Linked DNA regions of Homo sapiens. The protein of the gene in region 4 purifies or fractionates together with the protein of the main gene of each other region. This does not show direct contact. Each region holds a gene or a part of one and is shown on either strand. Other genes may lie near its edges.

The links.
Region 1: the proteins of TBC1D4 (region 4) and DDX56 purify together in Homo sapiens (co-immunoprecipitation; one large-scale study listed by IntAct). This does not show direct contact.
Region 2: the proteins of TBC1D4 (region 4) and SLX4 purify together in Homo sapiens (co-immunoprecipitation; one large-scale study listed by IntAct). This does not show direct contact.
Region 3: the proteins of TBC1D4 (region 4) and TBC1D2 fractionate together in Homo sapiens (co-fractionation; one large-scale study listed by BioGRID). This does not show direct contact.
Region 5: the proteins of TBC1D4 (region 4) and PPFIBP2 purify together in Homo sapiens (co-immunoprecipitation; one large-scale study listed by IntAct). This does not show direct contact.
Region 6: the proteins of TBC1D4 (region 4) and CREB3L2 purify together in Homo sapiens (co-immunoprecipitation; one large-scale study listed by IntAct). This does not show direct contact.
Region 7: the proteins of TBC1D4 (region 4) and DNAJC13 purify together in Homo sapiens (affinity purification with mass spectrometry; one large-scale study listed by BioGRID and IntAct). This does not show direct contact.

The regions. Positions count from the first base shown.
Region 1 is NC_000007.14:44,564,944-44,568,593, forward strand, and holds the end of DDX56 (probable ATP-dependent RNA helicase DDX56), read right to left. Parts: intron 3,281-3,650; coding exon 3,175-3,280; intron 1,582-3,174; coding exon 1,505-1,581; intron 1,137-1,504; coding exon 1,059-1,136; 3' UTR 861-1,058; downstream 1-860. UniProt on the Homo sapiens protein: Nucleolar RNA helicase that plays a role in various biological processes including innate immunity, ribosome biogenesis or nucleolus organization. Plays an essential role in maintaining nucleolar integrity in planarian stem cells.
Region 2 is NC_000016.10:3,583,736-3,588,045, reverse strand, and holds part of SLX4 (structure-specific endonuclease subunit SLX4), read left to right. Parts: intron 1-377; exon of another isoform or gene 378-1,110; intron 1,111-3,174; coding exon 3,175-3,277; intron 3,278-4,310. UniProt on the Homo sapiens protein: Regulatory subunit that interacts with and increases the activity of different structure-specific endonucleases.
Region 3 is NC_000009.12:98,245,316-98,249,662, reverse strand, and holds part of TBC1D2 (TBC1 domain family member 2A), read left to right. Parts: intron 1-4,347. UniProt on the Homo sapiens protein: Acts as a GTPase-activating protein for RAB7A. Signal effector acting as a linker between RAC1 and RAB7A, leading to RAB7A inactivation and subsequent inhibition of cadherin degradation and reduced cell-cell adhesion.
Region 4 is NC_000013.11:75,363,670-75,367,169, forward strand, and holds part of TBC1D4 (TBC1 domain family member 4), read right to left. Parts: intron 1-3,500.
Region 5 is NC_000011.10:7,512,126-7,517,272, reverse strand, and holds the start of PPFIBP2 (liprin-beta-2), read right to left. Parts: upstream 3,233-5,147; 5' UTR 3,156-3,232; coding exon of another isoform or gene 2,668-3,155; intron 1-2,667. Other genes in the region: leucine-rich repeat extensin-like protein 5, read left to right, coding at 2,668-3,155, 3,233-4,063. UniProt on the Homo sapiens protein: May regulate the disassembly of focal adhesions. Did not bind receptor-like tyrosine phosphatases type 2A.
Region 6 is NC_000007.14:137,876,831-137,880,481, forward strand, and holds part of CREB3L2 (cyclic AMP-responsive element-binding protein 3-like protein 2), read right to left. Parts: coding exon 3,646-3,651; 3' UTR 1-3,645. UniProt on the Homo sapiens protein: Transcription factor involved in unfolded protein response (UPR).
Region 7 is NC_000003.12:132,458,598-132,462,944, forward strand, and holds part of DNAJC13 (dnaJ homolog subfamily C member 13), read left to right. Parts: intron 1-1,652; coding exon 1,653-1,760; intron 1,761-2,452; coding exon 2,453-2,608; intron 2,609-3,869; coding exon 3,870-3,926; intron 3,927-4,347.

The DNA.
Region 1 (3,650 bases), on a different chromosome or scaffold from region 4:
CGTCTGCAGCTCCTTAGCAGCTCTAGTTCACACCTGCCCAGAAAGTACCACTGTCCTGCCCCCATCATACACACTGGCTTCGTGGAAATCCTTGGGTGTTAACAGAAGAGGAGCAGGGATCATGGAGGCCCCAAATCTCGGGTCCTGCTAGCTTCAGTCCTACCATGACCAAAGACACAGACTCCTTCGTCTCTGTATAAGCTTTTGCCGAGAAAAAACTTGGTTCTTTCTAAAATACTCAGGCACTCTCCTAGTTTCTCCCCACTCTCCTGCTGCCCCAACCTCCTCATGCCCCCAGCATGGCCTTGTGACGCCTGGTAAGCAGGTGACATGCAATCTAGGACCCCAAGCCAGCAGAGAAGCCCAGCCTTCAGGCTGAGAAGGCAGCTGGAGAGCTCAGGCCAGGGCATAAGGGACAGTACACATGTGTGTATGTCACACCACCGCTTATGCACATAACACACAGACACAGCTCACACATCAACAGTTGTTCAGAAAGGGACCAGCAGATAGCTGCCCCGGCTCCTCTAAGGAAGAGCAGGCAGCTTCCCCCCGAATCTACATGTGCGTGTGCTCGGGGAGAGGAAGGCTGGCGGTCAGGAAGGCCCATCTCCCAGCCTGATCCCAGGCAGCAGGGCTGCAGGAGCTGGGCAGGAAGGCTCTGGGCCGGCCATAGCCACCTGCCAGCAAGGGCAGGCTTCTCTTCTCATGGCTGGGGCAGCTCGGCACAGCTGACCTCTGCTGGCCAAGTGAAGCACTGCATGCAGCCACAGAGCCAGGCACAGCTGTCTTCCGAAGTTTCCCGACTCCTGATGTTTTGGGGATTCAAATAGTCCTTTTCATATGCTGGAGGCACAAACTGGGGCAGCTAAAATTTTTATTCTGTTGTCAAGGGGCAAGATGCCAGCTTGGAAGTGCCAAGGAGCTAAAGGGCCCAGCACTGCCGGCCCCAGAACTGTCTGTTCAGGCTGTGCAGTAAGCACCAGAGCCTCGCCTGTCCACGAAGGGTGTAAGCCTGTGCTCCACAATGTGCTCAGCTCCAGAGAGGCCCAACAACCTCAGGAGGGCTTGGCTGTGGGTCTGAATTTCTTTCCTTTGTGCTTGAAGCTGCGCAGTGGGTTCTGGGACTTTGCTCTCTAAGGAGGCAAAGTCACAGGTTAGTTGGGGGAATCAGGCCGACAGACAATCCACCCACCCACCCACCCAACTGAGAAAGACACAAAGGGAGCCGTGCCGGCAACTGGCCAACACGACCAGAAGGTGCTGCAGATAAGGAAATGGGGAAAGGCAGCTGGGGAAAGAAAAGCAGGGCCTGCAGGCGGCTGCAAAAGTACCCCTATCCCACACCAGATTTTTGGGGCCCGGTTCTAGGGTGCCCCCTCTTCCCCTCCCTAGGGCACCCTCTCTTCCCCTCCCTAGGGCAAGGCGCCTCCACATTCTGGTGATGACAAAAGAGCAGGTTGGGAGGAGTCCTGGGGCTGTCCGCAGTCCCCAGGAGCCGTACCTTGGCCTTCCTACAAGAGGAAGACAGCTTCTTCCGCTTCTTGTGAGGGCGCACCAGGCCACGGAGAGCAGGAGGAACTGGAAGAGATGCTTGCCTGAGCAGTGGGCTCACCGCTACTGCTCCCATCCCTGCCCTCCCGCTGATTCTGCAGCAAATTCTCCAATTCTGACCCAACTGGCAGCCTATGACATACATCTATTCACTACCACATCTGCACAGGGCCAGGAGAATGTGAGCACCTTAGACTTCCACTATTTAAATCACTCTCCTATATTGTTTAGATTTGTTACAACAAACATGTAACAAGAAAGAAAAAGACAGACATCCTTAAAGAAAGAAAATGCAGCTGAAATAAAAGTCAACAGGTAGTTTCTTCACCTGTGGCCCATTACTACCGATACAGGGGGCCCCGCATCCCAGCTGCACCTGATCTTGGCTCTATCTTCACCTCGCCCACCCCATGGACTCCCCCAGGCCAACCACACCTGGGCCCTCCCCTTCAAATGTCAAACATCCCACATCCTGACACCTTTCCACCTTCTCCTGGCCCTTCTAAACCTCCTGGCCACACCTTGGCAAATGACTCCGCTATACGAGCAGACTGGGTTCCTGAGGCCAAAGTTCTAGCCTTACCTTCTCCCTCCCTACCCACCCTCCCAACTCCCCTCCTCACATCTCAGGCCAGGACCTGGACTGGGGTCTCCTCCAGCTCACTGTCCCATGGGAACCCGGCCCCCACCGCTCTCTCTGGCATTTTCATGTTCCCATCTCTTCTGGATCCTTCCTTTCCCAGTGCCCAGGCTTTTCCTGCCCTGGAACATTCCATCTCCACCCTTTGTCACCTCCATAGCAGCAACACCACACCCGCTGGGTGGCTGCAGGTCCAGGCTGAGCAGACCCTGTGGCATTGGGAAGGGTCCTGCACTTGCTGCCCACAGCCTCCTCTCCACCACTCTCCTCCTTCAATCCATTTTAGGCATAAAAGTCACACATACTCATTACCAAAAACACCTCCTATGAGACACTGAAAGAAGTCATTACCCAGAGCCTGCCAAAGATGAGGAGAGGTGCCCAGTATTAATGGCCACATAAAGCTCTAGCCTGGGCTGCACTACAGAAACCAATCCCAGGGTCCTGACCTCATGCCTGCCAACCCCTGCATCCCTCGCACCACCACTGGCTCTTCTCTTGCTACCTTGTCGGTTTAGGCCTTACAGAGTCTGTCTCCCTGCTGACTGTTCTTACCCAGAGACTCCACAGATGCCTCTTCAGCAGCTGCTAATCTTGAGTCTTTTGCAGCACAGGTGGCTCTCTCTGCCTCCTGCCCGTGACTCTCTCCCAAACCTGTTCACTCCCTTCGACCCATGGATGGCCATTTGGCCCAGCTCTGGAGACGACCTGGCCTGAAATGCTGGGTCTGCCACCCACCCTGCACTACCTCAATTTCCTCATCTCTAAAATGGAGACAGCAACAGCTAACCCGTGGGACCAAGCAAACAAGTTTAGAAACACAGGGGTGTGCCTGTTTACATGCCCGCGTGCTGCCAGGGTCTCCAGGTTCTATTCTGCCTGAGCATCCCCAGCACCAAGCACAGGGGCTGACCCAGCAGTGGAGAAATTAATGCCACTTCCCCAGCCTGCTGCCTCCTGCCCTGTCAGGCCACACTCACCCAGGTAGTCAGGAACATGGCCCAGGTGGGGCTTCACCACTGCGGGGTGCAAAGGTAGGTCATGCCGCAGCAGCTGGAGGTCCCTAGGGTTGTCTTCAAAGTATGTCTGCCGGGGGAAGAGGGAGAGCCACAGAGTGAGCATCTTTCTTCTGTGACTTCACAGACCTAGCTTTTCAAAGGATAACACACTCATGTGTTTCAAAAGGCATGAGGCAGCTGCTTCTGTGCATTTCTCAGAACCTCCCGGGAGTGGATGTTTCCATTTTCCCTTCTCCATGACACACATGGCAGTACCCTGTACCCCTTTTTGCTGGGCATCATCTTACAGACTGTTCCATATGGACACGCAACCAACCTCATTCCTTCCCATGTAACCTTCGGCTCTGAATGCACCTGAGTTTACCTAGCAAGCCCCCTATGGTGGCCCCAGGCTGTTTCCATCTTTTGGTTCCATGATAATGCCATGGATGGATGAA
Region 2 (4,310 bases), on a different chromosome or scaffold from region 4:
TTAGGCCTGTTCTTCCTGGTCCTCCCAGGTGCAGGGATGCCACCTCCCTGCTCATTTCAGTCCCCGGGGAGAGTCAGAGCCCCAGGTGTCGGCCCCCTCGGTGCTGCTGCTCCCATCCAGGCACCTCCGGGGAGGGCAAGGACAGGCCGGGCTGGGCTGAGCATGACTGGGAGAAAGGCCAGGCTGTGAGTGAGCACCTGCCTGCGGCCTGGGGGCCCATTTCCTCCCAAAATCCAGATGAATGAGGCCACTGATAGTGTCCTCGGCCCTCAGGGGCTTCAGAAACACCTGGAGAGCTTCTTATAGCACGCCCGTGGCCCAGCCTGCCCCAGAGCCTTGCTTCGGGAGGGTGACTAAGAATTTGCATTTCTAACCAGTTCCCAGGCAGTGCTGTGAGAACAGCTGCAGGAGGCTGCACAGCAGATCTGAGGTGGGCTTCAGGACGACGCTGCGGCCACAGGAAGAATCGTGCTTTTCTCAGGAGACAGAGCCTGCCGCTTTCATCGGGGGCTCAAAGGGCTCCATGGTCATAAAAGGCAGAAGAACCAAAGTCTGACTGTTTCCAATGTGTCACCAGGCTGGAGTGCAGTGGGGCTATCTCGGCTCACTGCAACCTCCACCTCTCGGGTTCAAGGGATTCTCCTGCCTCAGCCTCCCGAGTAGCTGGGATTACAGGCACCCAGCACCACGCCCAGCTAATTTTTGTATTTTTAGTAGAGTCGGGTTTCACCATGTTGATCAGGCTGGTCTTGAGCTGCTGACCTCAGGTGATCCGCCCACCTCGGCCTCCCAAAGTGCTGGGATTACAGGCGTGAGCCACCTCGCCCAGCCTATTATTTTTTAAAGTAACAGCTTTATTTAGATATAATTCACATACCATAATATCCACCCTTTTAAAATGGACAGTTCAGTGCTTCTCAGTACATTCACAGTGTTGTACAATTGTCCCCACTCTCTAATTCTAGAACATTTTCATCATCTCAAAAATCCTGTACCCATGAGCAGTCTCTCACCTTCCCCTTCCCCCAGCCCTGGCAACCAAGAACCTTTCTGTCTCTATGGATTTGCCTGTCCTGGACATTTCATATAAACAGAGCCATATATAACTAATATGTGGCCTTTTGTGTCTGTGTCTGGCTTCTTTCAGTTAGCATACAGTTTTCAAGATTCATACATGTTGTAGCATGGATCAGTATTTTATTCCTTTTTATTCTTTTTTTTTTTTTTTGAGACGGAGCCTCTCTCTGTTGCCCAGGCTAGAGTGCAGTGGCACGATCTCGGCTCACTGCAACCTCCACCTCCTGGGTCCAAGCGATTCTCCCGCCTCAGCCTCCCGAGTAGCTGGGATTACAAGCGCCCATCGCCATGCCATGCCCGGCTAATTTTTTTGTATTTTTAGTACAGATGGGGTTTCACCATGTTGGCCAAGCTGGTCTCGAACTCCTAACCTCAAGTGATCCACCCACTTTGGTCTCCCACAGTGCTGGGATTACAAGCCTGAGCCACTGTGCCTGGCCTGTTTTTGAGTCAGGGGTCTTGCTCTGTCACCCAGGCTGAAGTGCAGTGGCGCAATTACAGCTCATTGTAGCCTCGACCTCCCAGGCTCAAGTGATCCTCCCACCTCAACCTCCTGAGTAGCTGGGACTACAGGCAGCTGCCACCATGCCCAGCTAATTTTTTTTTTTTAGTAGAGACTGGGTCTTGCTATGTTGCCCTGGCTTTGGGCATACATTCCTTTGTATGTCTAATACCCCACTGATGGTATGCCACATTTTGCTTATCCATTCATCTACTAGTGGACACACGGGTTGTTTTTAATTTGTGGTTATTAATAATGCCACTTAGGAATATTGATGTGCAAGTTTTCGTGTAGACATGTTTTCCTTCTTCTTGGTTCTGTACTTAGGAGTGGAATTGCTGGGTCATATGGCAACTGTGTTTAGCATTGTGAGGAACTGCGAGACTGTTTTCCAAAGTGACTGCACCATTTTAAATCTCCACCAACACTTGTTATTCTGTTTTTGTTGTTGTTGTTATTGTTTTGAGACAAGGTCTTGCTCTGTCGCCCAGGCTGGAGTGCAGTGGCGTGTTCATGGCTTGCTGCAGCCTCAACCTTCCTGGCTCAGGTGATCCTCCCACCTCAGCCTCCCGAGTAGCTGGAACCAGCCACAAACAGCTGCCCACATTGGTGACTTGGGCCACCACACCCTGCTAACTTTTTTTGTATTTTTTTTTTTTTTTTTTTGTAGAGATAGGGTTCTGCCATTTTGCCCAAACCCTCTGTGTTTTTTGTTATGGCCATCCTAGTGGGCGTGCAGTGGTATCTCACTGTGGTTTTGACTTGCATTTCCCTGATGACTAATGATGTCGGGCACCTTTTCATGTGCTTATTGGCCATTTGTAGATCTTCTCTGGAGAAATGTCTGTTCACATCCTTTGCCCTTTTTTTTTTTTTTTTTTGAGACAGAGTCTTGCTCTGTCGCCCAGGCTGGAGTGCAGTGGTGTGATCTCGGCTCACTGCAAGCTCCGCCTCCCAGGTTCACGCCATTCTCCTGCCTCAGCCTCCCAAGCAGCTGGGACTACAGGCGCCCGCCACCACGCCCAGCTAATTTTTTGTATTTTTAATAGAGACGGGGTTTCACCGTGTTAGCCAGGATGGTCTCGATCTCCTGACCTCGTGATCCGCCCACCTCGGCCTCCCAAAGTGCTGGGATTACAGGCGTGAGCCACCGCGCCCGGCCCCTTTGCCCATTTTTTAACTGGGTTTTTTTAAATTGATGAATTATTTTTAAAAAGCAAAACTGATGTCTAAGCCTGTTTGAAGAGTATCAGTGTGGCCCATTGTCTCAAGTTGTCACTGTGGGTCAGATATTTTTAAGTTTACATGCATAAGTTTTAGTCACGTGCCGGGCTGTTGGGTTCAGTGGCCCCAGGAGCTCTGTTCACCCGGCACCCGTGTTATACAAGGTGTGGTCCTCAGTGCGTGTCACCGATGCTATCATTGGGAAGCCCCTGCTCCAGACAGGGAAGGGGTGACCACTGTTGCTTTCATGGAGCAAAACGATGCTTGGGTTATCTTCAAGTGCATTATTCCTCTTGGTCACGCTACTGGGATCAGATGTGGGAAATCCGTGTCCCTCATGCTAAAACGTGTGCTTCTTTTGTTTTACCCAGAAGGTGCTAATCGGAAGAAGAACTTGCCCCCCAAAGTGCCCATAACGCCGATGCCACAGTATTCCATTATGGAGACGCCGGTGCTGAAGAAGGAACTGGATAGGTTGGCGGTCTTCAAAGCTTGTTGCCCACAGTGGTCTTTTCCCTCCCATAAGTAACTGGGTTTCACACACCTGGGGGCGGAAGGGCCCCCCGTGTGGTCTCTGGGTCTGGTGGATGCAGCTGGCCTGGGCTTGGGAAGAAAGGTCTGCAGTCAGCTCCTTAGGGAGCATGTGTGACTGCTGGGTGCCGGGGTGAGCCTCCCAGTTCTCTCTGCGTACCATTCCCCAGGGAGGCAACACACAGGATTCGTGCATGTCACCCCTGGGCAGCAGGTCCCCATATTCCATGTAGATGGAAATGGCCCCCTAGCCAGAGCAGTCTGAGTGAGGAGGTCTGATTTTTTTTTTGAAAGACAGAGTCTTGCTCTGTCGCCCAGGCTGGAGTGCAGTGGCGCAGTCCCGGCTCACTGCAACCTCCACCTCCCGGGTTCAAGCGATTCTCCTGACTCAGCCTCCCGAGTAGCTGGGACTACAGGCACACGCCACCACACCAGGCTAATTGTTGTATTTTTAGTAGAGACGGGGTTTCACCATGTTGGCCAGGCTGGTCTCGAACTCCTGACCACGTGATCCACCCGCCTCGGCTTCCCAAAATGCTGGGATTACAGGCGTGAGCCACTGTGCCCGGCGGAGGCCTGATTTTTTTTAAAAGAACATTTAACTCTCACATCCACATGACACTGCTCTTCCACTCGGGCACCCGGGGAAGCTGCTGCTGCCACCATCCCTCAGAACTGGGAGCAGCATATCTTTTGTTTATTTTTTATTTTTGGAGACAGGATCTCACTCTGTTGCCCAGGCTGGAGTAGAGTGATGTGATCTTGGCTCACTGTAGCCTCAGCCTCCCGGGCTTAAGCGATCCTACCTCATCCTCCCTAGTAGCTGGGACTACAGGTGACACCACCACGCCTGGCTAATTTTTGTATTTTTTGTAGAGGCGGGGTCTTGCTATGTTGCCCAGGCTGGCCTTGAACTCCTGAGCTCAAACTGTCCTCCTGCCTCAGCCTCCCAAAGTGCTGGGATTGTAGGCGTGAG
Region 3 (4,347 bases), on a different chromosome or scaffold from region 4:
CATTAGTAATTTCTTTGGAGTTTCTTTTGAAGGGTTTCTTTGCTTCTGCTCCAGCCCCCACTCCCCATCTGCCAGGGAGCCAGACAACCCTGGTTTTGCAGAAAACTGCAGCCTGGGTTGATGCTGCTGCAAAGATCAGCATCAGACTAGAGGCCAGCAGAAACCTCTGCAATAATAGAATTCCTGTGTCTTAACTGAAATTTGAAGAAGCAGATTGTGGAAGAACGGCTCTGGGATCCTCAGACCTCTTCTGCTGTGGGGAACCTGTTGCAGGTTCTTTAATTGTGCGGCTTTGCTTCAGCACACACGGCGGGCCTCTTCCAGGCCAGCCCCTGCTGTGGGCATTGGAGAAAGGGGTGGAGTTGCTGTGATGACCTGGGTTCTAGTCTCCTGAGGAGGATGCTGCCTGAGACTCAGGAAGCAGGGACGTGAGCTTCTCCTCTTGAAACCTTTCCTCGCCTTGCAGCAAGCCTGCACTCTCCTCCCAGACCCAGGGCCTGGCAAAACCTTCCCAGCCCACCTAGAAAGATGTTTCTGGTGTCTTGGGCAAGTCAGCAAGGCCTGGATTAGCCACGTGGAGCAGGCTGCCCCACCTCGCCCGCCTCCACCCTTCCTGAGGAAGCAGCGGCCCGCTCCCATGTCGTTGAAAACCTCCTGACCCATGTCTGACTTTGAGTCAGAGACTTCTGGTAAAAAGTGTCTCGTCACTGCTCTTGAGCAATCTGCAAGGCATGTTCTCTCCTGCTTTTAAGGATTTACAACTTTATTTTATGCTTTACCTAAACAACGGTCTCCGCAGAGCCAAGAAAGATCAAAGGGAACCCACGAGACTTATAATAATAAGAATAGCAAGTTGCCACAGTAAGCTACAGTTTACAAAGGACCTGTATAAATGTGTACTGTCATGAAATATGCCTGCTGCCCCAACACTTTACATGCGTCATCTTATTTAATCCTCACAATAATTTTATAGAGTAGTTAGTGCTATTTCCATTTTATAGACCAGGAAACTAAGGCTCAAAGAGGTCAAGAGACCTGTCCTAGGTCATGTAGTAAGAAAACATCAGTGCTGAAATTCAAACCCTAGGCTGCAGACTCATAACCTGCCCTCCCAAAGCTAAGGGGCAGCCAGGCACTCGTCCAGGGCCCTCTAGGGAGGCAGTGACCTCCTGGGTCAGGCCCTTTTTTTGTCTAGGCAGCGCCTTCTTCCCACTGGTGGTGGGGCAACCCTCAGAGCTCACGTAAAAGGAGAATTACAAATAAATGCTGCTGAAAATCCTCTGTGTGGTCACTCATGGAGGGCATTTCTCCAGGGTGCCCCAGACTGCAGCCTCAGGTCATTGATTCTGCCTCCTGTGGGAAGTGCTGGTCTCTGTTGGGGCATCGCCATCCTGTGCCGCCCGTGCCTTGCACACTCCTTTGCATTGGGAGCTTGTGCCTTCATGGGCAGCCCCTCCTGTCTTAGATGATCTGCTTGTTAGAAAGGCTGCTCTGATAAGCCACATTGTTTAATGGGAAAAGCAAAAGTAGGGACGTGTTTGAGTCTATAACGGTGTCACCTGCTAGCTTTGACTTTGGCCACAAAACTCAACCTCTCTGAGTGGCTATTTCCTCATTGGTAAAACCTACCAGTGATGACAACCCCCAGGACTTGGCTCTGTGTAGTCTCAGAGTTGATCTAGGCCCACAGGTGGCACTTACAAGAAAACAGATATTAGCAGTTAGGGAAGTACTGCTAAGATATCAAAATCTTAGAGAAACTGTTAAGTTTTTTTGGTTTGCTTTGAATGAAGGAGAATAAGATGGTTAAAATATTGATAAATAAAAAAATTTTATTTTTTTCGAATCAGTTCAGAGTCTGGCTTAAAGGTTACTTTGAAAGATGTGAGTCCACAATATGGGGCTTTATGGCTTTTTTTTTTTTTTTTTTTTTTGAGACGGAGTCTCGCTCTGTCACCCAGGCTGGAGTACAGTGGCGCGATCTTGGCTCACTGCAACCTCCGTCTCCTGGGTTCAAATGATTCTCCTGCCTCAGCCTCCCAAGTAGCTGGGACTATAGGTGCGTGCCACCACGCCTGGCTAATTTTTTTGTATTTTTATTAGAGACGGAGTTTCACTGTGTTACCTGGGATGGTCTCAATCTCCTGACCTCGTGCTCCACCCACCTCCGCCTCCCAAAGTGCTGGGATTACAGGCGTGAGCCATCGTGCCCAGCCCAGCTTTACGGCTTTTTAAACATTTTTGTATACATTAACTCTGAAGGAGACAAGGTAGAGAGTATCCTTCTTGTTTTTTTTTTTGTTTGTTTGTGTTTGTTTTTGTTTTTTTTTTTTGAGACGGAGTCTCGCCCTGTCACACAGGCTGCTGGAATGCAGTGGTGTGATCTCGGCTCACTGCAACCTCCGCCTCCCAGGTTCGAGCGATTCTCCTGCCTCAGCCTCCCAAGTAGCTGGGACTACAGGCACACGTCACCACGCCCAGTTTGTTTTTGTATTTTTAGTAGAGATGGGTTTCCCCACGTTGGCCAGGCTGATCTTGAACTCCTGACCTCAGGTGATCTGCCTGCCTTGGCCTCCCAAAGTGCTGGGATTACAGGCATGAGCCACTGCGCCCGGCCCTTGATTTTTTTTTTTTTTTACTGATTTGCAACCAGGTCGCAACACCCTCCCCATGGAAACAGGGCCCAGCTACAGATCTTCTACCCAAAGCCAGGTTTGGTTCTTCAGCCTCCTGCTCAAACCCCTAGGAGCTCTGGTTTCCATCGTGATGAGATCCAACCACTTACCCACACCCCTTTCTGTTTGGCCTTCCCCACCCCATCTTCCCAGCTTCCTCCCCGCAAACTCAGCTCTGGGTCTGAAACCCCTTACTGTTGCCTGTATGCTTGGCATAGGAAGATCTTTCCTGGTTCCTCCTGCAGATTCAAATCAACCCCAGTCCTTAAGGCCCAGCTGCAGTGCCCCTCCTCCAGGAAGTTTCCCCTGACCTGGGTTGGAAAGACTCTGTCTCCACCTCCCAGAACTGCCCCTACCCCAGCACCTGACCCCAGGTGTGCACTTTTTCCCCTTCCCTGCTCCTTAGGCTTTGAGTTTCTGCTTTTATTCTTCTCACTTTCTCCAGCCCCACTCACAAGCCTCAGGGTAAACACCCAGTCTGTGTTTGGTGAGAGGATTCATGGAAGGGAGGGCCTCAAAGATCTCGCATTTGAGGAGTGTGAGTGCTGGCCTACCTGCCAGATCTGATGGAGCCTGTTAGGAATTTACAAATACACTGTCTGTTGTTTGAACTACTGCTAAGTTTCTTTTCTTAGGTAGGTTGAACAGCTCCCCCTGACCCCCATCATTATATTTAATATTTTTATACCCACACCCTTTTTGCAGATATAGTGCAAAAACAAATCTCCGCTCCTAAATGTTTCAGTCTCCCAGTAAGAGGGCTCCAAGTGGAAAGTGTCTGCTGCCCTGGTAGGTCTCAGGGGCTGTCTAATCAAGCTCATACCAACCCATAAGTGGTCCTGGCTCTTTTCTCCTTTTTCTAACACTCAAAGTTAATTTCTAAATATTTCACCTCCCCTCTCTTATACTTCACATAATTTCCTTGGCCTTGAAAGCTTGCTTAACATTAAACATTTTCAAGTCACTCACTGTAGAAGAATCATTGTTTAAACAGAACATTTGGAAGACTAAAAAGAAAAAGAACCTGTAATCCTATCACCCAGAGGCAGCCAGTATTAACCTTATGTTATGACCTCCTGCCTGCCTTTTATTTAAACACATTTCAGATCATATAATAATATAAAATGTCCTACTTTGTTTTTTGATACTCAGTAGTGTGACCCTAATATTTGCGTGTGTTTTTAAAATCTCTGTATAAACATCTATTTTTGATAAATACATATTCTTTTTCTGTTTATAAAGTAACCCATGTTTATTGTAGAAAATTTGGAAAAAAAACAGTAAAATACAATGAGAATAGCCTGCTCACTGCAAATCCCATCACGCAGCTCAAACCACTGTTAAGATTGCGGAGTATATTTCTTTGAGACTTTTTCTGTACAATTGAGATTACACTATAACCCCAATTTTTTTTTTCTTTTGAGGCGGGGTCTTACTCTGTTGCCCAGGCTGGAATGCAGTGGCACCATCTCCGCTCACTGCAACCTCCACCTCCTGGGCTCAAGTGATCCACCCACCTCAGCCTCCCAAGTAGCTGGGACTATAGGCACGCACCACCACACTCAGCTAATTTTTCTGTTTTTTGTAGAGATGGGGTTTTGCCATGCTGCTCAGGTGGTCTCAAACTTTCAGCTCAAGTGACCCACCCAGCTCAGCCTCCCAAAGTGGCGGG
Region 4 (3,500 bases):
ACCCTGGGGACATGTCATCAGGACTTCCTGGGGCTGTGTCACAGGTGCGCATCCTCAACCTTGGCAAAATACACTTTCTAAATTAACTGAGACCTGTCTCAGATTTTCTGGTTCACAACTCTAAAACTGAGAACAATCCAAACGTCCATCAGCAAGTGAAGAGATAAATAAAATGTGGTACATTCTATAAACCAAAAAGTATCTGAGACAGGTCTCAATCAGTTTAAAAGTTTATTTTGCCAAGGTTAAGGGCATGACCATGACACAGCCTCAGGAGGTTCTGAGAACATGTGCCCAAGGTGGTTGGGCTACAGCTTGGTTTTCTACATGTTAGGGAGACATGAGACATCAATCAGTATATGTAAGATGTACATTGGTTCGATCCACAAAGGTGGGAGAACTCAAAGGGGCAGGGTGGGGAGTGTGCATGGTGGGGGCGGTGCAGTTCCAGATCGTAGGTGGATTCAAAGATTTCCTGATTGGCAATTGGTTCCTAGAGTTTATCTCCTACTAAATTCCCTTCTACTCAGCTCCAGCCACAATGGCCTCCTTGCTATTTCTCCAACATACAAGGCACATTCCTCCCACAAGGTCTCTGAGTTCAGAGATGTTAACAGTTTATTGCCACATCCATTTAATATTTTCGGACCACAGATGACCACAGGTGACTGAAACTGTGGATAAGGAGGGGCTGTTGTAATTATTTGGGATATACTGCTAGAACATTCATAGTTTACAAATAACAAGAATTTCCGCTTGCTAGACCAAGTATTTCCTATGAAAGGATAAAATCCACATGCTATAGCTTCAGTGACTCACCCTGAACACTTGCCATGTCTCAGGGACAAAGTCAGGTATCTGTGCTAACATGTGACTAGCAACCTCAACCCTTCATCATTTTCTTACTGCCTTAGTATGTGATTTACCTTACCTGGCAAGGGCCAAAGCTATGGAGAGTGAGCTAGCTGACACTCAACCGTGCAAACCTGCAAAAAATAAAATGATTCTAGTGGGCAAAGCCCTAGGAGAATGATCTCTTCTTTCTCTCTACTTTTCATCTGATTACTAAATATTTTTAATCTGATTTTTAACCCAAAATCTTTTTGTCTGATTTCCACTAAATACTTTTCATCTAATTTTTAACCCAAGTATGCCTCCAAAAGTGTCTCTACAGAGTACGGAATCAGAAATATAGCCTGTAGCACTGATTTTACTGCAGATATTTTATCTTGTTACAAATATTTAAATGATTTACATACAACCTCAGAGTTCCATTCTACAATTGAGATTGCACATAAAGTCAATTCAACCTTAATTGTGTCAAGTCTTTTGAATTTCTCTACCGCCATATCAAGAGTTTTTACATGAAAAACTGATTTGTGGCTGAATTTCTGTAGTCTCCCAGGATCCTTCCCTGTGACTACAGGTAAAAACTCAACACCTAAATGTAATTCTGTAAGTGATCCAATTTATATAAGCAAAGTTTATCATCTTGAATTCTAAACTGAGTACATAATTTAATCTTTAATAATTTAAGATGCTAATATTACAACACAAAACTGGTTCTAGTTACCTTTACTACCTTTTCTCAGGTTATGACTAACCACAACTTGAATGACATGGGTTGCAGAGACTCTGCAAAACTAATCTAACAACAGCTCTGTTTTTTTTTTTTTTGCTTATCCTCATGTGAAACACAGAGTATAAACACTAGCATTATACAGCCCCTGACTACTCACTTAGGCCACACCAGAAGGGGCACACTGCTCATATAAGCACAGTAAAATATCCATAGCGGGGAAATGAGTGATCAGAGAATCATGAAAATCTTGTATTGAAGCATTTACTTAAGGGATTCATCAGAAACAATGCAAGAGAAATAAAATTTCTATCAAGTACTTGTACATACATACAATATTTTGGAATCATAGGATTCTCCTGTAGCATAGTGTTAACTGACATATATTTATACATACATTTACAAATATTGTTGAACGAATTTGAATCCTTCTTATATGTGTTGTATCTTTTCAATATCTCTTTCTCCTGTACCATCGTACCATAAGCTCTTAAGTGAAAGACTGAGTTGGGGGGATTTTGTTGCTTACTAGAATTCCTCCCTGTGGCCACTAGGAAAATGGTCTGGGCTCAGAAGAACTTGAATGAATGCTGACAGCAAACAGAGTCATATATATAGGAGTGAAAAACTACCTAGAACTCTGATATAAATTCTTCAGGACTGAGACAGTTTAGTAAATTCCCGTTGGTGACTCAAGAGATCTGTCACACCCAAAAATAGAAAGCAGTGGCTTCTCACTCTGCTCACCATTCACCCAAACTAGGAAGTGACGGTATGTTTCCAGAATGACTCTAAATGTTATAGAGCACCTCAAGCTACACACCCTAGCTACATATTGTAGCTACAAATAATTCCGCTGCTCAGAATCTGCCTACAACCCACAGAGCCTAATGACGATTTACACACACCAATTTAAGGCAAGATTTCTACTCAGTGGCAGCATTTAATCTATTAACACAAAACAATGATACTGAAAGAGGCTCAACCAAACTAGGGACTGACAGGTTTATATTCTATCCCCAATATTTTGCTCAAGACCTCTGGGAATAGTTGTTGCACCTCTGCCAGATAACTTCCTCAAGAGCAAAGTGAATGGGGGAACTTGATAGATGGTTGATAAGGTCTCATCGAGATCCACATTCTGTGAGTTAATTTTTGGATTAATGCCAATATAAAGGCAGGATAATGTACAATCAAGAGAGGGAAAAATCACCTTTATGATTAAACCTGAAGTAGTGTGCAAGTTGTTAAAATGATCCATTTCCATTAACACACAGGAATCAATTCAACAGAAATAAGGGTCTCATTATATTTAGAAAAAGCACAGTGCCACCTTTAGCTAGTATTTTGTTGTTACACCTTCAGTGACCTCACTAAAACAATTTAGAATCAAGTACCAAGACTCAGACATTAAAGCAATTCCTCACTCTAGACAAAAAAAAAAAAATATTGCTTCTAGATTCCTTGATGTCATGCTGTTCTTTCTCATTAATTGGTTATCATAGTTACTTAACATACTTCAAAAAACCCATTAACATTTTATAAACTACATTTTACCTGATTTCAAAATAAAACAAATTCTACAACTACCAAACACTGATGTTCAAAGACCTGAACAAACACAGGAGAAAATCTGGAGAGTGAAAAAGCACTAAGGAAAGATACCTTTGATCAGGAAGCCAGCTGGAAACTGGAGGTGGTCACGAAGAGCAATGATTTTGCCAAACTGGTGTAGTCCTCAGTATTAGCTCTAAGTTCTCTCTTTCTAAATAAGCTGGCGGTATTTTCATTGTATTTATTAAAGTCCACGTTATCACTATGCAGCCAATTATAAAACTTCCCAGGAGTAACCATTATTGCTTCAAAAGTTAAGTATTTCCTGACTCTGCAATCAGGAAATACACAGATTGTTTGGGACTAA
Region 5 (5,147 bases), on a different chromosome or scaffold from region 4:
CCCAAAAAGCTGAACTCATCACCCTCACTCGAGCTCTCACTCTAGCAGCCGGACAACAGTTCTCTAATTTAGGAGGATTTAAAACCCTGGTAGGGACAGTAATCTTCATCACTTTTTCTCCCCTGTGTTATCCCACTAATAATAAAAGCCACTAAAACTCTTATTGAAACTACAGTTAGCCACCAGACAATTCAGACTATGCTCCTGCTACAACGACACGATGGATACCAACACATCTCTCAAGAATACCCTAAAAATTAAGTTTTTCTTTTTCCAAGGAGCCCACACCACCCCTAAGTCACGCCTGAAGTAGTTATTGAGAAAGTCACCCCTTTTCCCTTTTTACTATAACCAAATAGACAGGAATGAAAGATTCTCCCCGGGGTCTGAAAGCTTGAAGAGATGAGTAACTCCTCCCTTCTCAGGCCCAGTCCCAAGGTGCAAGGCCAGTTGCGCCAGCAGTGTGCATCAGCAAGACAGCAGAAGCAGGAAGACAGCCGGCCAGAAGACACCTACCCTGGCTGGAAGACACGTACCCCTTGAAGACAGAGAGAGGGGCCGTCTGGGTACTGTGCAGAAGTTACATCAGACTGAGACACTTCTTGTTTACAGGAAACTATAAAACCCCTGCCTCGTCCTCACTTGGTGCTGACGCCATTTTAGGCCTCAGCCCACCTGCACCCAGGCGCTCGTTAAAACAGCACGTTGCCCCACACCGCCTCATGTTGTCTGTTGGCAGGCTCTCGGGGTTCGAACCAATACAAGAACCTTTCATAAACTTTACCTTAAACATTACAGTCTAAAGGCCATACCATTCCTCAGGCCCAAAGCTGAATCTTCCCAGCATTGTTTCTCCCTCCTCACTTCTCATTGCATCTAATCAGTCTAGAGACTGTCCCATTCCCTAGTCCTCTGTCCTACAGATTCTATCTCTCCGAAGTCTCCCTACCTGTCCCCACCTCATCACTCTCTCAGGCCCAAAATAAGGCCTCATCCCTTTGACCCTGGATCAGCCTCCCGGTTTCCTATCCGGCCTCGCCGCCCCCACTGTCTTTTTCCCTTGGAGTTTGCTTCCCACCACACTCCCAGAACTTTGCCATTGCAGCAGTTGCCTTCGGGTTTGTCAACAGAATCACCTGGGGGAACTTGGTAAAAACATCCCAGACTACTTAATCTGAACGTTTTACAAAACTCCCCAGGCGATTATGAGGCATAGCCAGGTTTGCAAACTGCTACTCTAAATCCTTGCTACACATAGGGAAATGATCAGCAAGCTCCTGGGAATCTGTTAGAAACACAGAATGTCAAGTCCCACCCCTGACCTATGGAATCATAATTTGCATTTGAACAAGATCCCCACAGGATTCTCAACTTTGAGAAGCTCTGCTCTACAGTGTTGTCAGACCATGCACTCCACAAATATTTACTGGATTTTCTCTGTATCAGGCTAGGAATTGGGAGGGTCAAGGACCAAGGTCTTTGACTTTGAGAAGTTCACAGAACCATCAGTCAGTCCCCTGCTGTGCCTTCAGACCAAGTCCAGACTTCTGTACTGGACAGCTGGGACTATTTTCCAGCCTTGTCACCAGCTTTCCTGACTAGCACTTGACATAAGAGCCAAGCTGGACCACTGGCCACTTCTCATGGTGAGTCCATGCCTGCCTGCCCACACAGTTGTCACAGCCCAGGCCACACTCTACCCTTCTCTGCCTCAAAAACCCCAGGAGGGATCCTTTGAGGTCCATCACATCACCCTTTCTTAAAATTATCCCAGATTTCCCTGCTCAGATGAAAGACAGGAATTCCCATAACTTTGTTCCTACCGCCTTCATGTCATTGATCTCATTCCACTTACTCTTTTAAAGTCAAAGCGCATCTCCCTTAGCTACCCAGTAAAGAAGGCATCATGGTAAGCAGCTTATCTCTCCAGTAGCAATAAGCTAACAACTGTCACATCACCAAATCTTAAAATAGTATTACTAATAATTGAAATATGTTAAATAAAACATGGATAAATGCAATCAGTGAAAACCTCATCAATCATCCCCATCTCCCACTTCAAATTTATTTAGCTATGAATTTAAGCAAAGTACAAATGGGTTGCCTCTCTTAAGCCAAAGAGAAATAATTTCTAAATTAGATAACACTTACAGCTTTCCATACACCTATAATAATGAAAGACTGAATATGCTGAAGATGAATTATGTCGAAAACCAACTACTTTTCTGTAGTTGACCATTTAACTTCACATAATACACTACAAATTTGAAAACACTTCAGATTTGTATTACAATCAATTAAGGAGGGGTTGAGAAAGGAGAGAGACGAAGAGAAAGACAGGAAGTAGACCAAAATATAGAAAAGGGACACGGATCTATACCAAATATCTGGCTGCTCTAAAAGTAAAAATATAATTAGATTCGTTTTTTAAGAAGATTAAACACTGGCAAGAATGCCTGTCTTAATCCTATCCAAACGCTGGAAGTTCTGTTCTCTTGTTACATAATCTTATTTTCATCCGAGGAAAAACTGCGGGTCTGGAATCTGATGTGATGAGGTGAGGAGGGAGCCCACTTTTAAATAGGACCGTCCCCATCCTGCAGTCTACTGGGACGCGGCGGCTTTAGATTTTAAAAAGTGTGCTGTATTTTTGCACTTACACTACAGAACTGGCTTTAGCCGAGGCCCTGCATCTAGACACACGCTGTGTCCACCAGAGAATTGCCTGGGCTGACAGACCTAAAGCTTCCGCAACCTCCTTAGGCTCCCTAGTCCACGCCGCTGCTCCCCGGGCTGAGCAGGGCTGGGACGCGCCGCACAGAACTCAGGGACCCCACCTCCCTGCGCATCTCCAGGGCCACGCTGGCACCTGCAGGAGTGCGGACTGTCCGCGGATCCCAGGCAGGGTTGGGTGGAGATTCGCAGCCAACCCACAGGAGTTCTGCCCTCCTCCCAGGCTTCTGGCCAGTGGAGTTGGAGAAGGGTCCCCGTCCTCGAGCCTGGGACACGCTCCGGGGCTCACAGAGACACTGACCCACACGTCCCCGTGGTTCGTAGCTCTGGGGGCGCTCCACTCCCTAGGTAATGCTCCCGACGGGGATCCCAACCCCGACCGCGCGGCAAGCCCGGGGTGTGGGGAGAGCCCACTGACCTGGGTACGGGGCCGAGGCTCCTCTCCGGGCGGCTCAGGTGTGCGGGCCGCTCCCGTGTCCCTCCCACCTTCAAACATGAGAGCCCAGAAGCGAGCGACGGGCCACTGGCCCACCGACCAACTGCCGGACCAAGCGCCCGACCAACCAGCGGACCGACCGCAGCGGCCGGGGCCGGCGCCCACGTGACGGGGCGGGGACCTGCGGAAGGCTCTTCCCGGAGCGCCGCGCCCCCACCCCGGGACCTGCCACAGGGACCACCCCCTTGGGCACCCGCTCCCTCTCGGGCACCGAAGAAGCCTGCTGGGACCCGTCCACCAGGGTTCCTGTTCCCGGGGGACCGGCCTGGTCAGCCCCGCCCCTTCGAACCTGCCTCGTCCCCACCCCCTGGGCCGCGCGTCCGGGCCCCAGCCCCGCCTCTCTCGGCGGACCGCGCCCCCTTCCGGGAGCCCCGCCCCGTTCGCCGCGCCTCCTCCTCCGCACAGCTCCGGTTGCGGGGAGGCCCGGGTGGGTACCCGGCGCTCCGGCTCCCAGTCTCCTGGGCTTCTCCAGTCCTTCAGCGCCGTTCTCCGGTCACAGGGAATGAAAGCGAGGAAGAAGGAAACGGTGTCGAGAATTGCGAAGAGAGAAAGCATAGAAAACCCACATTAGAGGCACTCCCAGAGCAGAAACCCTTCGGAGCATCCCGACTTCCTCGGCCCGCGTGCAATCCAGGCAAAATTGAGGTTGTCTCTGAGCCGCCCTCCCTAAGCAGGTCGGAAAGCCCCCGAATCATCCCAGGTCCCGCCGCGCTGCACTCGCAACCTGGGGTGGAGGTCCCTCTAGTGGTTGGCACCAAACAAAAGTTCTGTCTTATGAAGAGCCGAGGTCAGGAAGCATTTCCCTGTGCCCAGCGCCAAGGTCTGGGACCTTAGGTCCAAGAAAAGCGTTGGCAATGTCTGACCACAGGAATGGGTTCTCGAACTGGGGAGGACTGAAGCTGGAGATCTGGTCCAGCCCCTACCTCCAGCGTGTGGCCTGAACCCGTTTTGGTTGTACTGCTATGTTGTGGCCCTGCCCAGGCCTCCAAGGACTGGCTGCTGTTAAGCTGTTTAAAATCCCTGTAGGCCTCAGATGGCAGCGACACCAGGGACTCGGCATAGTCCCCAGCTCTGGCAGGAGTCACCACAGCCCTAGCCTTTAGTTCTCTACAGGCTGGAGTGTCGACAAACTCCACAGGACACAACTTTTTCAAACCAAATTTACCCTCGCGGTCTGAAATGACCAGTAGGCCCAGGAGAATTTTACATGTGAACAGAACCTAACCCACCCTGGCAAATATGAGACGTGTGGTCACTGCGGGAACCTGGCCAGCAGCAGACCAAAGCACAGCCAGCAGGGGAAGGCTGGGGCCCGCAAGAGTTGTGTTACAACAGGACACCCTTCAGTTCTCTTTCACTTCCTTAAAATAGCAGCAGAGCGACTTTTGTAGACGCAGGCTGCCACAGTTCACACAAGGTCATGGCTGTTTCCGAATCCCACCCTTTATTGCCCTAGCGGAGCCACTCCCCTTACCTCCGCCCCCAGAAACTGCTAGCCTGTTCTTAAATTGATACAGTTACCTTTTTAAATGTTCTAAGTCACCGGCTCTGGAGCTTCTTTGCACTTTGGAACCAACTTGCGGGAAGGAACTTTAAAAATACTGATATCTCGATCCATCCCCAGAGGTTCTGATTTAATGGTCTTGGGGATATGGCCACGGCATGAGGACTGTTAAAACTCCGCAGGTGATTCTTATGTGCAACAAAGTTTAAGAACCACTGATGTAGGCCATGTCGATGTCAGTCTTCACTTAAATCCAACAAGACCCCAGAGCTAAAACGTTCACCTGAAAGAAACCCCATTCCCAGGCCTGCATACTGACCTGCGCTGGCTCACAAGAAGCAAAGTGGTCCCTTAACAGGGGCTTCCTGGAGAAAATGTCTTGACCTAAAAGAGTGATTCGAGCTGCAGGGATTT
Region 6 (3,651 bases), on a different chromosome or scaffold from region 4:
GGTCTTCTAGTGCATCTCTGCCCTCTCCGTGTTGGCAAGGTTGGCATGAATGGGCCATTATTCAACTGGGGGTGGGATGTCTCCATTTCTGGACTGTGCTCAAATTCACACCTTGTATGACATGTGGGCAGAGGAGCTGGCCTGGAGAGGCCTCTAATTCTGCCTCTACGCTTTTGCTGGGTCTGAGGACATGGGAGGGAGGAGCCATAAAATGCTGGAGAACAATTTTAAAAAACACTTATGAAAAAATGCTGGACACTTGACTCACTGCCAGAACAAAGAAGAGCCAATTCAACATCCCAACTTTACGGGCACGTAAGATTCACAAGCTGAACCAAGAGATTTAGGAAGAAAAAAAAAAACATGGTAATTATAAGGGGTCTGTGAATAAGTTAAACTAAAAGCTGCTTTCACAATCTACAAATTAGGCCTCCAAATCAAAATCATTTATATTAACCAAAAGGTTATCTAATTTTGCCCATATTGGTGTCAAATCTCATCCCCACTCCCTGCCAAAAAAGAGCAACCTAGTTCAGCTGTCGGATTTTTATATAACACTCTCTTTATGTGAGCTAGACTCCAGAGTCCTCACACTTCACAGAAATTCTTTCTTAAAACTGGCACTGCAGCCTTTCATTTACAATATCCCTTTTTAAGTGCAAAGTCGAGGGCTGTGAAAAGAACCACGGTGGGGGGTCTGGGTTACTCAGGTCTTATCCAGTGAAAAATTAGTTCTCTGAATCTTTGCAAAACATCTCCTTCACTGGTGCAATCTAAGAAAGGGAAATGGGAAACTTGTTTACATGATGAAAAATATAATTAAGAGATTGACTCTTTATGGCTTATGGCCGCTCTGACAGACTCGTATTTCTCAAAACTTACATTCAGAAGACACTGTCTGCCACTATTTGAAATCTTTAGAGCTAATCATAAGTTAATGACTAGTCTAAGAGGCCACTTGGTGGGGAAAACAAATCCACTGATATTCTGGTCTTAATCCCTGAACAGAAAATGTGCACACATCCATTAACTATTTGGAACCAATCTGGTGCTATACAACTCTTCTGTGTCCTCTTGACCCCATTTTGTCCTCCTAAAGGGACAACTGTTAGTTCCTTTAACCCACTCAAGCAAGGAGTGGAGGGCAGAGGTTTATCTAAAAGAGCAGTGATGTTGGTTCTTGGAGCCCCCTTAAAAGGGCCATCTGAGCTCTCTGCCTAACGTCCCATTGTCTACATAGATTCCGTTTTGGAAGGATGGTTTCCCAGAGAAAGAGTCCTGCTGTTTGGAGGTCGAGAGAGAGTGACGTCAAGCAAGCGTAGTAAGGGAGAAAATAAAATCCTCAAAGCACTAAGGACAGGGGCTAGAAGTTTCCTTTATCTTCTCCCTCCTCATTTAGAAGAGCACGTTTCCTACTCTACGTCTGGGAGCCTTGAAAACCCAGTCTGGTTCAGTTGCAGCAGGTACATGGGTTGGCTCATTCTCTCACTTCTGCCCCTAAATTTGAAACCTTTCCTTCCTCATTGCCCAAATGCTACTTGAGTAAATCTTATCTTTTTGCCTTCTTTGGGCCCTATAGGCTGCCTATGCCTGATAATGACCTGACAGTTTAAAAGAGAGGGATGGGTCAGTGGAGGCCCATGGTTACCAGACACCAGCCAGGCCCAACAGGATCTGGGCTGCAGACAGTGGAGCAGAGAGAAGCAGAAGCAGAACCTACTAGCAACCCTCCTCCTGCACAGCTCAGACAGTCTCCGCCCTGGCTAATGGGAGGGACAACAAGAACCCTCCAGACAACAGGGCTGCCAGGACTACGGGGGCCCGATCCAGCTTCCACTCACAGTGAGAAGATGAACTTGGCCGCTTTCCAGGCTGGAACCGTCTCCAGCATAGCAGAGAGAGGGGAATCACTCACAGGGAGCCCCAAATGGGCCTAGACAGACAAGGCAGGGACCGACTTATGAGGTATGACGACAAATGTTAATAACATCAAATCCTGTACCTGATATGGAATGGAAGCCAGGGTGTGGGCTTAATCCCTCTAAGTACAGGCTCCAATAACAATGCAGATGACGTGTGTGGGGGTGGGTGGTGGGGGGAGAGAGAGAAGGAGAGACAGAGAGAGAGAGGGAGAGAGAGAAGCCAAAACCAAAGGCATTTCAGCTGCTAATAAAAATAAAATACAAACTCTATGCACATTTCCTACACAAAATCTTTCCCAAGCTCGGAAAAAACACTTGAGGGTTTTCTACATTACACAATAAAAAGGCAATTTCCACTTCTTATTTATATGAAAGAGGAAAGATTTTTTTAAACTACAAAAGTTACTTTTAACCATAAAAAAAAAACAAAAAAACTAAAAGTAGGTTGGGGATTAGGTTGTATCTCTTTGGGCGAGCTGCAAAGTAGCCAAACCTGACTACCAAAGGTAAGAATGTGGATACACAAATGTCACCTACCCCACCCTGCTTTGTTGAGGTAGGGGACGAGGAGGACAAAGTGGAAGTGTGGAGGGAGGAGGGGGCCAGGCAGGTGTGGAAAGCCAGCAAGGTTGTCTGAAATGTCTGTTGTCAGAACAGGGCTTCCCCTTCTCTGTCATGAAAACAGGATAGAAAAAGCTTGTGGCCAGGGAGCCCGGGGCCTGAGTGAGGCATTGTGTCATCTCTCGCTCTGAGCTCATCCTAGAGGCAGACACATACATGCTCAAAGGAACTTCTTTTTCAATGGTAATTATTCCAGTTAAAAGAAAAAACAAAGGAAAGGAAACAAAACATTGTCTGGAAAGACACGGGATCCCAGAGCCTAGGGTGCCCTCCTAGCTCTGAAGGCTCGCAGAAAACTTGGCTAGCTTGAAAGGAGGCATCGATCTCTTCAGTGTGGTTGCTAGCAGGAAGCCTCGGCAAGCTAATAAATACTATTTACAACTGGGGAGGAGAAGCTGGGGAGGCAGAACTATGGATGTGTGGGGAACCAGGTTGTGGGAGGTCCTAAAAGCGACAAGATGGGGCAGGTTTGCCTGGAGTAGAAAAGCCTGATCCCCTCAGGCATTGCACTTGCGGCCTGAGAATATGAACGAGAGCCCTCGCCTGCCAGTGCTGCTGCAGGAGACGAGACGATCCAGCGAGGGCTCCCAGGGGGCAGAGTGGGCGGAGGGCTGCTGTCGGGGGTGTTCACACCAGAGACCCCAGTGCGAGCAACGGAGGACACGGGTCAGTGCTTTGCCAAATACCAACAGGCATTATGGCATTTTTGTGGCCAGAGTCTGGGGTCTTGACTGAACAAGAGCCATCTCGTCTCCAAAGCGGGGGGTTACACCTCACAGGTGCACATTAGGCAATATCTTTTTGGCACTATTGGTGGAAACAAGCCTGCTTGTCCCACCTCCAACCCCTAAAATAATTTCCTATGGCAGTAAGAGAAAGGAAGGGAGGGATGCAGGCTCCCTTCTGCACAGGAGGGGCATGGACCAGGGGGAGATGCTCTCTCACTGCAGGGAAGTCCCAGGCTGGTCTCCAATCTGAAGCCACTAATGCTTGCCCATGTCTCCATGAAGATCCAGTGGCAAAGAGGAAAAGCTGATGACAAAGGTGGTTTGGGGATGTAAAAGTAGAGTTAAGGGAAAGGGAGGGGGTGCAGGCAGCCTCTTTAGAA
Region 7 (4,347 bases), on a different chromosome or scaffold from region 4:
TTAGGTGCTCTATGTCAGGAGCCAAGGATGGAGACCAATGTATATATTTTTTAATATTTCATGTATTCTCCCTGCTCAGAATTCTTTCCCTGCTTATTCATTAAGAGCTCAAGTCAGCTTTTAAATGAAGCTTACCAAATATACACACCTACTATGTACCCACAACAATTAAAATAAAATTTTAAAAATAAATGGAGCTTTCTTATTCCTGAAGGTGGTAGTGATGTATCCCTCCCTGAAGTGAGATTACCCTTCATAAATATTACACTTGTCTTTCTTAGCAATTTCTTCTTTGAATTATTGCTATTTCTAAACATGATGTATTTTTCTCAATCTGTCAGCTTCCTGAGGATAATATTCATGTTTAATTTTAATTTTTATCCTTAACAGGCCTTGTCAAGCTGTTTAATAAATAATGATTAATTTTTTTCTGTGTTTCAGGTACTATTCTATGAATTTTTCATATATTATTCAGTCTTCCAATGAACTTTAGAAGTTATTACTGTTATATCTATTTTGTAGAGAAGGACTTAAGGCCCAAGTAACTTGTTCAAGGTCATGTAGCTAGTAAATGGCAGAGGAGGCTTCAAGCCCACTTTCTGGCTCCAAAGTTTATACAATTAACCATAGTAACATACAGTATTTGCTAAATGAGCAGAAACAAAAAGGAAGGAAATTCTGACACGTTTTGCAACATGGATGAACCTTGAGAACATGATGCTAGTGAAAGAAGTCAGTCACAAAAGGATAAATATTGTATGATTTTAATTATATGAGGTCAAATTCACAGAAAGTAGAATGGTGGTTGCCAGGGGCTTGGGAGGAAGGCAGAATGGGGAATTATTGTTTAATGATTACAGAGTTTCAGTTTGGGAAAATGAAAAAAGTTCTAGCGATGGGTGGTGGTGATGGTTGCCCAACAATGTGAATGCTTAATGCCACTGAACAGTGTAATTTAAAATGGTTAAGATGGTAACTTTTGTTATATGTAGTTTACCACAATAAAAAAAAGTAAGAAACAATGCTATGAAACAAACATTGAGCCCTCATTACATATTAGGTGTTGGCTTTGTATCTTACATGAATTATCTCATCTAAGCATCATAGTAATGTTACATAAATACTATTACTCCTACTTTACAGCTGAGGAAAATGAAACTTAGAGACTTATGTAAAGTAACTTACCTTGCGTAACGTCTCCCAGTTATTGTCAGTAGTAAAATTAGGATTGGAGCTCTACTCCTAACCATCACGCTGGAATGTTTTATACACTCAAAAGAAAATCACCCTGAGACAAGTATTTGTTGTTAATTTTAGTACATTTAAATGCTAAGTTTTATTTCAAATTTTAGTTATAAAATTCTGGGTGGGCAAATGTTTGCCTTTTAATAAGATCTGTGACTTTTGAGAGAGTACCTTTTGTATATGTTGAGTTAATTGTTGGGCAAATTATCTGTGAAGTCTGATCAAAATCATGGTAAATCGTCACTTCTGCCTGCTTATCACGAGTTTCCTTTTTGCCTTACACTTTAAAGGCAATGGTTTTTAATTCTTTCAATGTGTAATGAATACTGTTTATAAATGACTTTTGCGTGATGCTAGCACATGGGACTGCTTATGAATTATCACTGTTTTTTTTTTTTCATCAATAGCCCATGCATGATGACTATGACTTAAGACAAGAACAGTTGAACAAAGCTTCTCTTCTCTCGTCAAAGAAGTTTCTGGAAAACTTACTGGAGAAATTTAATTCCCATGTGGTAAGTTATAATTAAATTTGTCTTCATGGTAGATACCATACCATTATTGAAAGATATTCTAGAAGTGCCACGTGGATGATTTTTTTTTTTTTTATTGTAGCCCCCAGCTTTGGTCAGTATTGGTCACAGTTCAGCTTGGTCACTGATAATAAAATATTTTGTCTTAGGACTATATCCATTCACCTGGGAAGGATAGATGTCAAAGCCTTTAGATTTTCACAGGGATACTCCAAATTTTTGTTTTTTCTTTCTTTAAAAATATCATTAGGAAATAAACTGCTCTAAAAAAAATTAAGCCAAATCTTTGTTCCTCAGTCCCTGATAACAATTTTGGAGATGGGCATTCTATAGCATCTTGAAGGAACATAAGCAGATTGCCAGAGTTTTGCAAATATTGTCAAATATTATTTTTTGCAAATATTAACCTTTGTTATACACATTTGAGAAGTCTTGGTTATACTCTTGAAATTTGAATTTTAATTGTTCCTTTTGAGGTATGATGGATAATGGATTCACTATATGAGCAAAAGCAAGTACTAAAGAGTCATCCAACTTTGAACCTCATGTTGAGAAATTAAAGTCAATGTTGATGTCTGACATATAGAATAACAGAAAGGAACACATTATTGTTAAAATTTAACTGAAGGTCCCCATCTCTTAAGTCTTTAAGAGAATCTGTTGCATTGTTTCAGGATCATGGGACTGGTGCCCTAGTTATTAGTTCGCTCTTGGACTTCCTTACCTTTGCCCTCTGTGCTCCATATAGTGAGACAACTGAAGGGCAGCAGTTTGATATGCTCTTGGAGATGGTAGCATCCAATGGAAGAACCCTTTTTAAACTTTTTCAGGTGAGAGCTTGTATTTTTCTTGTCAGATAACAGTGAATTTAAGGGAACCGCTTTTAGGATCACTGTTTCTAAGATAACATTTGCATACTTCTATAGCAGAGGTGTCCAGTCGTTTGGCTTTCCTGGGCCACACTGAAAGAAGAGTTGTCTTGGGCCACACATAAAATACACTAACACTAACAATATCTGATGACCTAAAAGAAAAAAAAATTGCAAAAATGTTTTTAAGAAAGTTTAAGATTTGTGTTGGGCTACACTCAAAGCCATCCTGGGTTAGCTTTGAATAAATATAAGCATCCATGTAGGCTGCGGGTTGGACAAGCTTGATCTATAATATTGACGAATAAATGCACCTAGTACATTATCATATTGGTACATTTTGAGTGTACAGATTTCTTGGTGTTTCATGTAGAGTCCCATTGATGGGTGTTCACTGCTGTTTTGACACTCTGCCCATTTTCTATATCTTGCTTTTTTATTTTATTTTATTTTATTTATTTTTTGAGGTGAAGGTCTTGTTCTGTTGCCCAGACTGGAGTGCGGTGATGCAATCACAGCTCACTGCAGCCTCAGCCTCCCAGGCTCAAGTAATCTTCCCACCTCAGTTGCTGAGTAGCTGGGACCACAGGCACATGCTACCAAACCCGGCTAATTTATTTATTTGTTTTGTAGAGACGGGGTCTCCCTTTGTTGCCCAGGCTGTTCTCATGCCCCTGAGCTTAAGCGATCCTCCTGCCTCAGCCTCCCAAAGTGCTGGGATTACAAACATGACCCACCACACCTGGCCTCCATTTTAGTAGTGAAAAACTCATTTTTCTGTGGTAGGCCCAAAGTTCCCTTTTCTTTACAAATTCCCAAATGATAAAATGAGCTTTAGCAGGGCTCTTCATAAACACTGGAAAACATTTGTTATTTTATACAGTACTATAGTACTTATTAGATACATGTATGTATATATGATGTTTATATTTTTATTATTTTAGTATCATTGATATGTATCATTCAAATAATTATAATTATTCAAATAGATGCCTTCTGTTTCCTACTAATGTAAATTCTTTGTTTATGTGTCTGTATCTCTAAGGCTATATTGTAAAAATACCTAAAATATTTAACCAAACTGACTTTGAGATGTATCCTTTACTAATTTTGTGGCTTATACCTTGTGTAAAAATGTATACCCTTCTTAAGAGTAACAGCTAAATGTGTTGGAATAAAATTCTTTTTTATTTTTTGATACTTTTTCCCCCTCACTTTAAAGCATCCTTCCATGGCAATAATAAAAGGAGCTGGGTTGGTTATGAAGGCAATAATAGAGGTGAGAGAACAATTTTGAAATTTTAACCTTACTTGAATGTTGATAGGCTGTTTTAATTGAAGTTGACAATATTGCCTTTCAGTCTTTTTGGGAAATAAACATTTCTCTGGGTAAGAAAAGTAATTTTAAATCTTTATTATAAATTAGTTTTAAACTTGTTACAGAAATAATCCTCAATAATAAAAGTTTTAATTTCATAGTGAAGTTGTAGAGCAAATAAATCTGTTACTGCATTATTTGTTTATTTTACTTACTTAAAAGTTAGCATTCTATCTGTTGCTCTTTTTTGGAAGGATAATGTTGACAGTGTTGAAGTCTTGAGATACTGAGCTTGTATAGAAATCTATTGATGGAGTTAGTTCATACCAAAATGATACCAAGTAAGAAAGGCAACAAAAAGTTCTTGATAAAGCATATTTGT